Linked DNA regions of Homo sapiens: region 2 is linked to region 1. A link means that fine-mapping ties the variant in region 1 to the expression of a gene that starts in the linked region. Tissue or cell type: prefrontal cortex. Region 1 holds a variant in brackets; the other region holds the start of a gene. All regions are shown on one strand. Distances are between the middles of the regions.

What was found. PIP is the estimated chance that this variant, and not a neighbour inherited with it, causes the effect.
Region 2: FREM2 starts here. The variant in region 1 is fine-mapped to the expression of FREM2 in prefrontal cortex (CommonMind, PIP 0.95).

What each region holds. Positions count from the first base shown.
Region 1 is chr13:38,760,625-38,768,732 of GRCh38, reverse strand. FREM2 (FRAS1 related extracellular matrix 2) reads right to left here. Exons shown (of 24, transcript NM_207361.6): 3 at 4,283-4,429. Among named protein-coding and RNA genes, the nearest start is that of FREM2-AS1, 63 kb to the left of the region's middle. The variant T/C (reference allele first, on the strand shown) is at 4,808.
Region 2 is chr13:38,682,919-38,691,026 of GRCh38, reverse strand. It overlaps FREM2 (FRAS1 related extracellular matrix 2), which reads right to left and starts at 3,950. Exons shown (of 24, transcript NM_207361.6): 1 at 1-3,950. The coding sequence starts at 3,682. It overlaps LINC00437 (long intergenic non-protein coding RNA 437), which reads left to right and starts at 4,352. Exons shown (of 3, transcript NR_126377.1): 1 at 4,352-4,588; 2 at 7,240-7,340.

The DNA of each region.
Region 1 (8,108 bases):
CGGCAATGGTACTTGGACTTCTATATCCTTAAATACAGAACCAGAACCTCTTAATGAGTCAAGTTAATAGAATAATTTTCAAATATATTTCTCTAAACCTGAGCATTTTCAGAGAAGTGGGTAAGACAGACAGATGTAAAAGAGTTGGAAAAATAAGGCTGGGCATGGTGGCTCAGGTTTATCATCCCAGCAGTTTGGAAGGGCGAGGTGGGTGGATCACTTGAGCCCAGGAGTTCCAGACCATCCTGGGAAACATGGTGAAACCCCATCTCTACAAAAAAGACAAAAATTAGCTGGGTGTGGTGGCGCATGCCTGTAGTCCTTGCTACTGGGGAGGCTGAGGTGGATCACCTGAGCCCTAGGAGGTCAAGACTGTAGTGAGTTGTGATTATGCCACTGTGCTCCAGCCTGGGTGAGTGAGAGCCTGCCTCAAAAATTAAAAATACATAAATGCATAAATAAATAAATAAAAGAGGGAAAAATAAAGTCTTGTGATAGATTTTTTAAATCTTGAAAATAAGTTATTTGGAAGATTTTGCATTTAGTTAAAAATTATACTTTTGAAAAATTCCTTTTGTTCTTCAAACTAGAAATGAAACTGAACTAAATAAGATCCATTCAACCACAAATATTCATTGAGTACTTATTCCATGCCAGGCTCTATTCCATGTGCTGGGGCTGTATCAGAGAACAAAACAGACAAAAACTCTTGCCTTCGTAGTGCTTATATAAGAGTCATTTGAATATGTATTTATATATAGGAATATATCAATGACTGTTATTTTAATCTTAAAGTGAAGATGAAAAAGATTTTATTAAAAATATTTCTGTCTTACAGATCTCAGAACAATAACTAACATAAATATTGCATCATATTTTTCTTTTACAGTAGCAGGTAAAACATGATTCATTTAATGGCAAGAGAAAAAAGGGCACAGAACCAGGAATTGCAGGGCTGCATATCTTGTTGAATGCTGTAGACTTCCTGACAGCTCTCTGGTTCCTTGTGCACACAGAGTTGGTTGTCAGCACCTCTTGGATCCACTACAATTCACTGCCAAGATGCTGATGAAAGGAATCATTCTCTCTGAGGTTCCAGAACACATGCTGCTCACTGACCCATCTATCCCCAGTGGCATCACCAGCAAAATCTGTTAGTTTGCCTCTGATAGCTACTGCTCACTTTTCTGTTTTGTTTTCTTTCATCAGCAATGCATTATTTGTTTTTTTTGGAGTTTCAAAAGGGAGTTAAAAATAAAAATTGAGTAAGTGTGATACAATGAATGTCTGCTAGTTCCAACTAGTCCTCCTTCCTGCACGATAGTCAAGCCATCTAATATTAAATGAGTTGCAATACCATCTGATATTAAATGAGTTGCAATACCATATCCCAATTGTTGCTGCTAAAAACACCTATAATTTTTCACTTTTGTTATTAAATGAAACTGCAATTGGATCTTTTCCTCTGACATAGAAAAATAACAAAGTGGTTAAACAGGGTGTTTGTGGAAGGAGAGAATAGATTTTATATCCCATCCAGGCCATATAACAGTTGTGGGATCGTAGGCAAGTTATTAACTTATCTCAGTGGAGGATTTATGAAGCACTATGGTGCAGTGATTAAGAGCATGGGCCTTTTGCCCAATCTCAGCTCTGCCCCTTACTAGCTGGCTAACTTTAAACATGTCACAGCCTCTCTATTTCCTCACCTCATGGTACTCTTCTCATGGAGTTGACCTAGGTAGGGTATTGGGAAGTAGGCCCAGCAAATAACTCAATAAACATTAGCTATCATTGTTTCTTCATAGTTCACTACCTAACACAGCCCCTGGTATGTAATGAGTACTCAATAAAATATTTGTTGAGTCAGGGAATAAAGGATGGATGTAAGGTATAAAAGAGATAGATAAAGTGCTTAATGTACGTATGAAGTACCTTGCCTTTAATAAATATTCAATAACTGGTAGCAATAAGAGCTTTGAAATGCATATACTAATGTGGAATATAAATACATATCTAGTTTATTAGTTTTAGTGGTTATAAAATGAATAATAATCTTTGAGAATATACATCTACAAATTTCAGTAATTCATGGTTTCTTAGCTGTACTCAAGCGATACTCTGTCTTTTGCTATAATGCAATCTATCTCATTCTAAAAGTCCATAAATAAAAGCAGAGGTTGTATGGGCACAGTTATAAGCAACGTATTCATTGTAAAACTTGTATGAGGCTACCCTTCATTTTAATCTGGTTTCCATTCCAGGTCCTAGCATGAATTCCGTTACCATCTTCAATGACTGAAGGATGTGGGCCACACACAGAAGGCTTCCCAATTTTCTATCACCCCAGGTTACTAAGTAACCATGTGAAGTGAACCAAGTAAAGCCTATGAGCCTTTGTAGAACTGCCGTTAACCCCACATTCGTAGAAAATAATAGTGCATTGAAAAAAATAACAACAAAAAGAGCTCTTGTTTGACATTTTGGCATCCAGCTTAAGAAAAAAGAGGCAGTGGAGAAAAAAAAAGGCAAAAAAATAATTTTACAATCTTTTTCTACTGTTAACTTTCCCAATGTTATCCAGGGGCCTGTTGTGAGTGAAAAATTAAATAAACTCACCAGGAGTGGGAACTCAGGTAAAAAATAGATAAACCTATTTTTAATAATCGGTAAGGTGCTCTGTTTTTTAGTTATCATTTTCCCCATGATTTATTTGCTATATGTTCAAGTACAAAGCAGAGTTAAGACGAATCACTCCCTGATGATAAGACAGGATGTGCACATGTGCACAGAGAATATGTCCCTAAAAGAGAGCGCAGTGAGAGTGCTCAGAATATCCTAGGCTAAATACAAAGCATGAGAAGCACAGCCAGGTGGAGGCTCATGCAAAATGAAGATGGAAGCAGAGGCTGGGGGTGAGGCCGCGGGGAGACCAGCCCCCCTGCAACCAGAGCAACCTCAAAGACAGGGAAAGTGTCGTGTGAAAACCTGGTCTTCTAAAGTTAAAAGGAAAAAAAAAGAATTTTAAAAGTAAGGGGTAATTAATATTCAGAATCAAAACATGTCAGGGGAAATCAAAAAGAGTGGTGGGGTTCTGGCTGCAGCAAAATTACAGCGGGATGTGTGGGGGTGTCAGGGAGGGATGTTGGGGGTGGCAGGGGTGTGTATTTCTGTGCATAGAGGTCTACTCTTTGAGGATCTGGAAGTTCATGGACCCAGTAAAATTTCAAAATAATCATTTGGAGACAAGCATAGGTTTACTAACTTTTTACTTTGCCAACATTTTCCCAGATTGCCACCTTAGTTGATAATCTCACTCAATGAAATCTCTTTTTATCCCATGCAAATTCCATTGGTCTAGATGTCTATAAAATATATGGTACCAAAAACAATATAGTTGCTTCAGGTGCTGCCATTTTTATCAACATATTAAATATTTTGTGCCAACCATATTGCTGCTTAAAAGTACCAATATACTGCCAACTTTATTTTATGCTTCTATGAAAATCAAATATGAACTTGAGGCCGGGCGCGGTGGCTCACGCCTGTAATCCCAGCACTTTGGGAGGCCGAGGTGGGCAGATTACGAGGTCAGGAGATCGAGACTATCCTGGCTAACACGGTGAAACCCCGTCTCTACTAAAAATACAAAAAATTAGCTGGGTATGGTGGTGGGCACCTGTAGTCCCAGCTACTTGAGAGGCTGAGGCAGGAGAATGGCGTGAACCTGGGAGGCGGAGCTTGCAGTGAGCTGAGATCACGCCACTGCACTCCAACCTGGGCAACAGAGCGAGCCTCCGTCTCAAACAAAACAAAACAAATATGAACTTGAATTGGAGTTGAAAAAAGGTTTCATTCGTTTGCTTCTGACTCTTAGTTTTATTTAAACGAAGTAAAGCAGAAGAAAATCATTAGTATTTAACAATTTACTGTTGTTACAAAGAAAGGTCACGATACTCATGTTTCAGAAAACTTTTATCTTACGGGTAAATTACAGATTTGCCTAAGCTCATTCTAAGATCTAGTGACATTTATTTTTGTTTCGTAACTTATTAGTGTTCCTGCCAATTTTTATACCAGAAAAAGATCATATGTACACAGAAGGCTTGAAGAGATAAGTACCTTGACACAAACCTGTTGCTTGTTTCTTTAGCAGTTAGAGAACTTTTAAATTTTAACTTTAAGCTCTAAGTGAACTAAACTGATACTTTAATCACTGTAGAATTATAAACCTTTGCTAGAAAAATAAAATTTTAAAACAGAAATAAAAAATTAAACTTACTTATAAAAGAAGTTTCTCCCAAGTAACCTCTACGTTTAAGAACAACATCTAGAAATTTGGAGTCCTCATTGACCAGGTAATATTCCTTTTCAAAGGAGATCCATGCCCAATTCAGACGAAAATTCTGGTACGTTAACTTGTTTCCACCTTGAAAATAAAAATTTAAAGCCATAAATTAGTGCTTTCTTGAATGAGTGATCTTCAAAATTCCACAGATTACTTTAATGAAACAACATTAACAATCAATACAGCTACTTAGTTTGATACACAACTCTGGAATATGTACATGGAGATACAGCTTACAGTCTAGAGACTGTTACACATACATTCAATCGCTGACATAATTCTTCACAAATTCCTTGCTGTTTTAGGAGGGGAAGTAGGTAATGGGTAGGAAGTGCACAACTACCAGAGGCTATTTAGTTTAATCCTAAAACTAAATATCCAACTTGCAGGATAACTCACTTCCCACAAGGTGCCACTGGAGAGCAAGTTTTCTAATCAGAGGGCTGCAAGGCTCCTTTG[T/C]GATGTTCTAAAAAACACACACACAACTTCACAAATACTTTTTCCGGTTCACAGAGCAATTGGGTGGAAGGTTTTAATTATAACCACTTAAGGAAAAACAAATATCCCTTCTCCGCCTCCCTTCCCCACTATATTCCACTCCATTCCTTAGAGCAAACAGACAGTTCTTTTCATTGATTTCCATTCCACTCTGAAGATAAGGTTTTCCCCTTCCATCTTCCCACCAAAATGGAGTGGGCTGCCTATCAGCAGAAAATAAACCTTGTGTGTGATCTCTCTAATGTGAAAGCGACTATGTTGGGTAAATGAAAGGAAAAATGGTTATCAGCTGATCACTCTGCACGCATCCCTCTACTTCCTTTGATCTACACCAATTATTTCAGAGTAAGGTGAGGTTTACAAACAAAGGCATCAGTAATGCCTTTTAAGTCTTTCTGAAAGAGGGTGTAAAAAAAAAAAAAGCCCAAGTAACAAACACAGCTAGAGGCACAGTTTTCATTCTAGTTTCTTCTCTTTGCAGTTCACATAGAAAAAGAAATGAAAGAGGAAAATCTCAAAACTTTAATAGACGACAAAAAAAAAATCTACACAAGGGAAAACGCTGAGTGAGCGAAGACATGAAAATACATTCATCTTTGCTCGAACTTTTAAAAAATAAAAACTGCAGCAACTTTGAGCTATCAACTTAACAGGTACTAAAGATTAAAGAGAATACCTTGTACAACTGAGATTATGTAGGGAAATTGTTTTCTTGTTTACTGTTGTTTGGCTTTCAAATTAGCACAAGCCTTTTGGACAGCTATGTGCCAATGTGTGCAAGGGGCAAAAAGATGGTTATATCCTTCAATCTTGTCGCTCCTTCTGTGGGATTTTTGCTTTAAGAGAAGCAGAAATATATTTGTAAGGAACTATTCATTGCAATATTTTCTATAATAACCCCAAACCTTAAAAACTATCTTATAGTGTATCAAATCAATAAAATGTTATTCAACTCCCAAACAATAAATATGAAATTGTTGTTGGAACACCGAAAACACTTAAAAACACAACAACAAATGGTACTGATACTGTGAATGTAGCTTCGTAAAATGAGACATGATACAGGAGAAGCTGCTTGGTGTTTTAAATGATGGGATTATGGACTTTCCTATTTTTAGTTAATTTATCAACTATAAAATATAAATAGATTGGGGCCGGGCGTGGTGGCTCATGCCTGTAGTCTCAGCACTTTGGGAGGCTGAGGTGGATCACCTGAGGTCGGGAGTTCAAGCCCAGCCTAACCAACATAGAGAAACCCCGTCTCTACTAAAAATGCAAAACTAGCCAGGCATGGTGGCGCATGCCTGTAATCCCAGCTACTCGGGAGGCTGAGGCAGGAGAATCGCTTGTACCCAGGAAGCAGAGGTTGTGGTGAGCCAAGATCGCACCATTGCACTCCAGCCTGGGCAACAAGAGTGAAACTCTGTCTCAAAAAAAAAAAGATTGGAGAGCAGGAATTTTGTGTCAGTTTGTCCGTTTAACAAGGAAACTCATTCCACATTTTGCGCTGATGAAACTTACTAAACTTACTATGCCCAATGTCTGCTGCACCCTGAGTGCTGTTCTGGAGAGGAGAGGCCATGGGCTAGGAGGCTCCTCAGAACTGGAGTCCAAGGCCCACCCACATCACTTCTAGCTGCTGTCTGACTCTGACCAAGTTACTTCTCTGGATCTCTGTTTCCTTTTCTGGAGAGTCAGGTGAGGGTGACGCTAATTAGCGCCTGTGATTTCTTCAAAGATCGACTCAGGTAACCCATACACACACACAGTGCTCTGAGGTCAATAGTATCATTCAACAAATGCAAGCTCACTCTGCCCTGCCACGCCACGCATGCCCAAGCCCACCCTGCATGCCCACTGCTGGACTACTATTCGTCTGCCTTACACCCACCTGTGCTCCTTTCTCCTTTGCCCCTCTTGCCTACAGCTTTTGCCCATATCAAGTGGACTTTTCTTTGCAGATTTCCAGGTTCATCCTGACCTACCCTGATTGTTCCCCTTGCACTCTAATCTGCCCATTTGGAGGTCAAGCCAAGATTCTTGCAGCTCCTGGGATTTGCCACCCTCACTCTTTCCATCACCCTTGTCCTCTTGCCTAAAATGAGGACCCCTATTCTTCCTTGGCTGACACTTTCCATTCCTTATTGCTGCTCTATCCCCCTCCTGTGTGAAGCAGCTGCAGCTGCTCCAGCCCTTTCATGTCTTTGTGGTTCTGCAGCTGTTCTCTTATTGATTACTCTGTATAGTTGTGCACTTTAGTGGGTATCCTCTCATATTTAATTGTATTAATTTACTAATTGTACTAAATTGTACTAATTTACATCAATAATTGACAGTATCCATTCTTTCATTATTGCCAATACTTGTTCTCATTGTTTTTAAAAAATATTTTAAAAAATTATTGTGTTTACGTTCCATTAATTGGAACATCATCTAGAAAGTAATAGAAAAGATAGAATAACATGCAATTGATTAAATTAGTACATAAAACAGCTCTGATTTCAAAACAAATTATCAGATGAAAACACCTTTATGCCACACTCCTGTCCACTTTAAACTGTGGTCCCAGCAAGCCTAGGTTTCATTCCAAACTTCTTGTCATGCTCTACCAAGCTTTTTCTTGTCCATTCTAACACCTATGACTTCACATCCTATCACTTCCCCTTAAAGAGAAATATCCATCCTCTCACATCCAACCTCTCACTCTTTTCTGAACAAAGGTGGCTGTTTTTGTATGTGCTGTATCTTCTGCCCAGGACATCCTTAGTTTTTCTCCTCTTCCTGGGAATCCCTATTCCTCTAAATTTTAACAATTCTTAGCTAATTTTAAGATTTGATTCTAACCCTTTCCTGAGATATTCCAGAAAATATCATTCTCTTCTAAATATGGCACATTTTAAGAATATTGAGTCACTGAGGGCTTCTCTTTTCAGTTTTTATAAAACAGCAAGCCCAGTGCAAACTCCAGCCCTCTCTACCCCTTTATTCTGGTTAGTTTTTCTCTACGGTACTTTCCAAAATCTTATATCCTATATATATTTACTATTTTTTTTTTGTCATTTTCTGTGTTCTCCCACTGCAACACATGATCCAGGAGTTCTGGGAGCTCATTTAACTTATTGTTAGAAAAACATCTATTGCATCAATTAGAAACTCTAATGTCTTGGCTGAAAGTTTAGTGGTCCTTCATTTATTGAGCAACATAAATTTTCTATGTAAACATAACATATCTCTTTCATTACTGAATCTTTTTATTAAAAAA
Region 2 (8,108 bases), 78 kb after region 1:
TGAAAGTTAAATCATCCAGGGGAACATCAGCATCAGCAGCATTGAGAATGGGTGTATCAATTACCAGACTCATGCCTTCCATCACCATAAATTCTCTCATAAACATCTCTGGCTGTTCATCATTGGTGGGAATGATTACAATGGGGAAGAACTGTCTCTCTGAAAAGTTAATGCCATCAGAACAACGAAATACAAATCGGTCCTCCACAGGTTCCACCCCTTTATGGACACTCTGGACATAGTTTATGTGGCCCTGCCTGAGATCTTTCAAGTTGAAAGCACTTATGGCAATCCCTGCTCTTGATTTCTCAGAGCCTGGTGCTGGAGAAATGTTTTCAACATAACCTGAAGTAGGCTGAATAACTATAGTGCACAAGATGTCATCATTCAGGGAGTCGACATCTTCAGCACTTATATGCACTGATGTTATAACACTTTTATCACCTTCCATTACTATCAACTGTTCACCTACAAAGATTTCTGGGGCCTGGCTATCAACAGGCAGGATGGTCACCCATATAGTAACTCCTTGGATAGTATTGCCACCAATTCTCCATTCTTGAGACATATCTGACAGACTCAGGTTAAAAGAATCCGCTTTAGGCAATAGGCCTATCTCACCACTGGTGTGGGTATATACAACAGAGCCCTCCAAGATGTCCCTTTGAGTAAACTGCTCTGCTGGAATGCCATTGACCAAGATTTCCCCATACAAAGGTGGATCTTCCAAGAGGAAAGTCAACATCAAGTCATCAGTTTCCTCATTGGTCCCCTTAATAACATTGGCAGTGATTTCAGTAGCCCCATTTTCTAAGACATCTAGATAGGACTCCAGAGTGCCAGTAGGATGGCTCAGTATGGGCACTTCATCATCCACTGGCCGGACATTTACTCTGAGAGTGATGGGCACCACATGATGTCTGTCACTGACTTCCAAGGAGCAGCTATCAGTCAGGGACTTGTCCCCATTATGGGCATAGGAAACTCGGCCCTGTTTTATGTCCTCCAAGTGGAAGAGACCCCCTACATGCAGGATCTGTCCAGACACTCTCATGTGGCCATGTTTGGGTGCCTGAGTGAGAGTGAAAGAGATATGGGCAACATCAGTGTCTACATCATTCACGTGCAACTCTGTCTCACTCAGGATGTGGTGACCCTTCTCCTGAATAGTGAAGCCGGTGTTGAGGATCTCAGGTGGCTGGTTGTCCACGGGATGCAAGTAAAGGGTAAAGGTACCTGGAGCCACATTCCCAGCTCGGTCTTCCACCTGGAACTGGAACTGGGCCACTCGAGTAGCCACGCCCAGTTCTTGACCCGGGGGTCTGTAAGCAATTTTATGATGGTTGATCTGGGCTTGGGTAAAATGGGTCACCACGACTGAGGGGTTGTCAGTCAAGACCAAGGTACCCAGTGGGGCTGGCAGGTGATTTTCGTCTGTGTCTGTGGGGGGCTGAGTCACTGTGTAACGTAGTTCTCGGTCATCTGTGTCCAGGTCAGTGTAGCGCAGCCACTTCTTCCTCAGTGGTGTGAGCTGGGATTCCTGTACCACCATACGAAGGGGACAGCCACTGCCCAGCTCCGGAGGGAGGCGATCCACAGGATGGATACGAATCACAAACCGCTGTAGCCCGGACTGATTAGGAGGGTCATGGTTATCCTGGACTCTAAATGTGAACTGGTCTGTGACTGGCCCAGGACTATGGGGCCCAGAGTGTCTATAGAACAGCCTGCCCTCTGTTATGTCCTGCTGCTGCCACTCTGTCACTGTTCGCTCATAAAATGCCCCCTCCTTCCTCCAAAGGCCTCTGAGAAGTTCCTGCTTCTCATGGGGAGGGTGAGTTTGGCGGAGAAGCAGATGCCCCGTAGTTAAGAAGGGTGACTCCAGCACAAAAAGCAGCAGAGAATCATCTGAATCCATGTCAGTTGCACTCAGGGAAAGGGGCAGGATGGGCACTGTTTCACCCTCTGCCAGTGTCAGCCCCGTGTTGGCATTGAGAACAGGTGGCTGGTCATCCACAGGCACTAAGGTGATGGGGAACAGAAACTGTACCTGGTGCCTGCCTCCTCCATCCACCATGCGAAGCACCAGGTTGTCGCTCAGCGAGCCGTCTCTGTCATCATGCTGGTAGACCACCTGGCCGGCTGCCAGCTCAGCCACTGTAAAGCTCTTGGGAGCAGAGCTGCCACTGGAAGCACCCAGAATGACAAGGTGACCATGCCGGAGCCCAGCCACCACCTCTAGCCGCACTGCTTCTAGGTCATCCTCATCGCTGATGACCAAGTTTTGCGGACCACTGCCTGCAGGGCCTGTGAGGGGCCGAGACTGACCCTCATAGAGAATAAGACCGGTATTCCGGGTGACCACCGGAGCCATTGTGTTCATGGGCTTCACCACTACCATGAAGGCAAAAGGGTCTGAAGCTGCTCCTTCTAGATCCACTACCTCCAATTCCAGTTCAAAGAGGCGCTCCTGGTCAGAGTCTTCAGAAGGGGGCTGGTAGGCAATCTTCAGGAGCCGCAGATCCCTCTGAGTGAAGGAGGAAAGGGGCAGGCTGCGATCATCGGTGCTCACCAAGTAGCCCTGGCCAGGCTGGAATGGAGAAGTAAGGTTGAAGATCAACAGGTCAGAGGGAGACTCAGCATCCTCGGCTGCCAGCATGTCTGGGGTCAGGGCCGTCAGTACAAACTGGTCCACCTCCATCATCATCATGGCCACGAAACTGGGCTTGGGTGCAGTGTTCTCGGCCCCTCCTCGGATCCTCACCAGAACCTGGAAGTGCTCGCGTTTCAAAGCAGGGCTGCCCACAGGAGCCCCTCGTGAACGCAGCTCCACCACCATGGGTATCCAGTCCCTGTTTGGTGAGCGACTGGCGGCTGTGTGGCGATAGCGCACGCCTAGTTCCTGGAAAGCTTTGCAGTCCATCAGGAGAGTCTCCGGGGCGCCTCCCTCTCTGGCTCCTCCAGGGACCTGCGGGTAGTGGAGGAGTTCTCCATAGCGAGGCAGCGCGCCCAAGCCGGACAGGATGCCCACGCGGCACTCCTCTGTCTCGGGCTGGAAGGCGAACTCCAGGCTCCGCGCGTCCAGGGCATTGCTGGTCCCCAGCAGCTCTTCCACGACCAGAGGCAAGTTCCGAGTCACAACCTCCAGCTGGGTGAAGACCACCTCCACCTCCAGTACCAGTGGTAGCACTACTGCCCCTCCGGGCGCGTCATAGCGCAGCTGCAGCCGGACGCGGTCCCGAGACGGGCTGCGCGCGCCCAGGTGAGAGTAGCGCACCTCGCCAGGGCCAAAGTCGCACGGGAAGCGCTTGGGACTCAGGCGGCCCGGTCGCTGGGCCAGTGCGTCGTTGTCTAGTACCGAAACCGCGCAGCGGTCCCCGGGCTGCACCTGCAACACCAGGTCATGCAGGGGATCCAGCCAGACTTCACGGCCGAAAGGCACCCGGAGTCCGCGGTTCGCCAGCACTATGGCCTCCTCAGCAGGGACCCCTGCAGCCCCCGCGAGACCAGGGGACAGCAACGCCCTGCCGAAGGCAGCGGGCTGTGCCGGGACGCGGCTTACCAGTGACAGGAGAAGCAGCAGCAGCAGCAGCAGCCGGGGCGGCGGTGGCGGTCCTGGTTGAAAGCTGGTGGAGTTGCCTGTCCGGCGCGAGGATAACCCGGGAGTCCCGGCTGAGTGCATGGTCCCGGTGTTCGGGCTTGGACAGGTCAGCCTGAGAGCATGCGAAGTCGGTCCCCGGGCAGACAACAAGAGACACCGCCGGGAAGTGCCAGGAACTCCGCGCGTTGCCCGCGGGGTCCTCCTGTAGCCGGGGCTGGGCCAGAAGGATGGCAAAGTTGCGCGGCGCCGTCCGGGCTGGAGCCGCAGCCGAGGAGCCGAAGCCTTCCCAGGCCGTCCAGCTCCGCCGCTAGCGCCTCAATCGCGCGGAGAATTGAATCCCTCCACTTCTACTTTCCAGGTCCCCGGACCCTGGGCTTTGAGGGAAATCCCTCCGCTCGCACCCCTTACTCCAGTCCTCCCAGGTGGCCAATCGTTGGTCGGGGGAGGAGGTGCGGAGCTGAGGGTTGGGTAGTAATTTCTGCCAATCAGCTCTTAGAGGCCAAGGCGGGGAAACTGCGGGGAGGGGAGGAGATAGAGGCGCAACAGGTTGTCCTGGAAGTGAGGGAAGAAGTGGCCAGGAGTTGCCCACCCCTGCTTGCGCTACTCTCTGGGCTGCTATTAATAGATCTGGTACTCCTGCAGAGGAGCCGGAACACACTGCTGTGCTGGGTTCACTTCATCTGCCGGCGACCGAGGGTTACCCATTTTAGCCACCCCCACCCCTCCGCCCTAGTCAATGAAATCCCGCGCAGGGCATGGCCATTTCCCAAGGAAACTTGCAAACCCAGGGGAAAGTTAGACGCAATGCTTTTTGAGTTTGAAGCGAAACCCAGAGCGTTTGAGAAGAAATTCTGGGGCATATTTGCAAAAGGACAGCTGGAATTAAAAGCCATAGCTAGAGCAGGTTGCACTCCAGCCCAGCCCCCTTCGGCGCGCCCAGACGCTGCCTTCTCCTCGTGAATTACAATGGGCACAGTCCTCCGATTGGTGAGTTTTTAACAAGCCCCTCCTTTGCAACCGAGGTTCACAGAGTAAAAGGGAAAAAGGGCATTTGGAATGCGTGAGAAATGCAGTCTGATCAGAATTGCTAGTCTTGCACCAAAGAATAAATTCTAGGGAATGTGGCCCCAGGCGCTCCCAAATCCGACTCTGTTAGGGTAGCTGTCATTAGAGACGTTCCTGTTCTCTTCGCAGTAATTAGACCAAGCACAAACTAAATCTACTTGTCAGCATCACATTTCTTTGCATGCCACGAAAATTGATAAATATCCGGAGGGCACACTAAAATAGTTTAGCTCTCATTTCAGCCAACAGGTTTTGAAGTCAGAGCTTGAGCTCTTCCTGCCCCCTTGTGTTTGTTTGGTTTTAGTAGTGTGTAGATTCCCTTTCTAAAAGGTTTTTTTATCAACTCTCCTCCCCCCCTCAAAAAAGATCCCTTGTAATTTAAACTTAATCATTTTCGGATTGGCTCCTAAGCAATCATAGTCAGAATGTTTTATTTAGGATAATATTTTTTTTCTCCAGTAATGCAAATCTGATTGCTAACAGGAGCATAGAATTGGAGTAATAGTCATAATTAGCCATAATTGCCCTTTTCCTGCTCCAAGGGATTTTGAATTTGGAAAAGAGGGAAATATAAGAAATTGTTAATGTCTTTTTACATTTCAGTCTAAATTGAAGCTAGAAGGTGCCTATGGGAGTAATTTCAGTAAGAAGTGCCTATCCTTTTAAGCCTTTGTGTTTTCAGCTTGAGCTCCTCCAGACCAGGATTTTGATCCTTGCTTGACACAGTTACAGCTATTTTCCAGGCTGCAGCACAAACTCTGTACATAAGTATGGCTGGGAGATGCCAGATTCCTTTCCATGAAACCTACTGAGTGGTGTCCGTTTCCAGGAATCATAGACAGGAAGTTCTAAAATCTTTCAAAAAGAAGCAAGAGATCAATTTAAAGGAGTCACTCATCCAAGCAAGTGTGCAAGCACGCAAACAAGTAACATTTAGTTAATTAAATATTAATTAAGATTATTCTGTGTGCTGTGCATTGTTTGAGGAGCTTTTAACTACAACTTAGAAACTGATGGATACATTTCACAATTTATTACAAAATGGGCATCCAGGAGCATAGAAGGGATGTGGCCCTTACTTTAAATACATTAGAAAATCCCCCATCTAACTCTTTACCAATTTCCTATTTGCTTTGTCATTATTATTTTATAATTTATATGATTATTTATTATCGCATACAGAATTCAAAATGCGGAACATGGGGGGAAATTCTGCTATTTCCTGTTCCAAATTAAAACAAATAAGATGCCAAGTAAACTAGAAAACCAATTTCAGAATATGGCTCTTTTTATAGTAAATTTCAAATTCTGGTTGTGTGTTTGTATTGAAAAATGTCATCTGGAAGCAAAGTGGCCTTATCCAGGCATTGTGACCCTGGGTAAATTCTGAGCAGAACCAGACTAACAGCTTGACCCTTGATGCTTCTTAGTGGCTCCAGGGTTTTCCTTTCCTCCTTTTAAAGTCCAACTCTGTTTGACTTGCAAGCAATGATAAGATCAGCATTTGAAGTATGGTAGTATGCCTCAAGGGCAGAGTTCAATATTTTGTTTCATGGTAAGAAAAATACAGGACCACATTTATTTTTACATAGCCTAAGGAAATCAATAAACTATAATCTTTTTGACTTTTTAATTTTGTCTGCCTTGATCGAAGTGATAGAATGATTTTTAGAGATTATTATTATTTTTTGGTAAATGTCTTAGTTATTTGTCTTGTAAATCAAATAGAAGGTAACTCAAACTATCATTTGGCTAAATATATTTTACATTGATGATCATTGACAAAACAATGAGATGTCAAATTTTTATTTGAGAGCAAATATTATTGATGAAGATCATCTCTGTTTAGGCTCCTAGTTCAGTGTTAAAAGATATGAATGCTAAAATAGCAAGAAAATTATTATTTTACAGTCAGCGTTCTCAATATCACTCAATTTCATGAAGAATAAGTTAGCAAATGTGATTTTTTTTTTTTTTTTTTTTTTACAAAATTCGAGCTTAACACTTCACTTCTTACTTCCTTAAGCCTTATAACGCTTCCTATACATACCATGGGCAAAATATTCCTTAAAATACATTCTTAAATTTGTTTGCTACTTTAAAGTCATACCAAAGTGTTGTCTCATATCAACTTAGAGTTAAAATTATTGATTGCTAAAACTCACAGACTAAGATTAAGCACTAGAGAACTTGTTTTCTAAAATAAAGGAAGCAATGTAATTAATTTATGATTCAGGCAAGGTATTTAGGTGGAAATACCTAATACCTAATACCTAGTACCTAGTAGGTCTACCTAACTATTACCTAACTACTACCTATTAGTAGGAAATACCTAATACCTAGTAGGTCTAGGACTGGAGGTCAGACTGGAACTAAAAATACATCTAGTTAAATTTTGAGAATTATAGTTTTCATTATATAGTTTATTTCATTTTCCTTATGCTTCTCCACCGGGTCATAAGATTCCAATAGAGAAGATTGCCTTATAGACACTTTTAAAATACTTACAGATGAATTATTGAAGTTTCTTGTGAAACATCTTTATTCATTCTCAACAAATGCTTATTCTTCAGTGGCATCAAAACCATGGTTTGACCATAAACACAAAACTTCATCGATTTCAGAGCAGCACTGAGGGGTGAGGACAAACAGCTACGGACTCATTAACCAAGAGGTGGGTTCCAGTAGCGGTTTTGACATCCACTAAATTATGACTTACAGCAATCCTCTTTATGTTTTGCAACTATAGTCTTCTCAACTGTAAAACAAGAGAGTCAGTCTTTGTGGACAAATTCCCTTTTGGTTTTAATAAGCTTGTGGCATAAGACCAAATTTATGGACGACCTGCTATTTTGCTTCCTCATGTCCCTTGGCCATTGGCTATAGGTCTCATTCTTGCCAGAAACACTACTAATCAAAAATGTATCACTGCTACTAGGTCAGAAAATGTAGAACTCAAATTCATGCCCCTTGCGAACGGCTCAATTGTTTCTGCCTAAAATATACAGAACAACATTTGTATTAATTGACGTGGACAGCTTAAATACAACATCTCTAAGTAACTATTTTTAAATAAAAAATAAAATTGAAATAAAAGTCTAGAAATGCAAAACTTAATTAAACTCATCATAAGGATAGGCGAATTTTCAAGATGGATTTATTATTGAGTAACATATGGCTTCACAAGCGCCCAGACTTTCCAGACAAAGCTATGTTCAGATGGGAGTCTATGTGGGGAAGAAGAAAGAGCACTGGACTAGAAGCCAGAAAACCTGTTTTGAAACTGGCCTTTCCATTTGCTTGCTGTAAAATATACAGAACAACATTTGTATTAATTGACGTGGACAGCTTAAATACAACATCTCTAAGTAACTATTTTTAAATAAAAAATAAAATTGAAATAAAAGTCTAGAAATGCAAAACTTAATTAAACTCATCATAA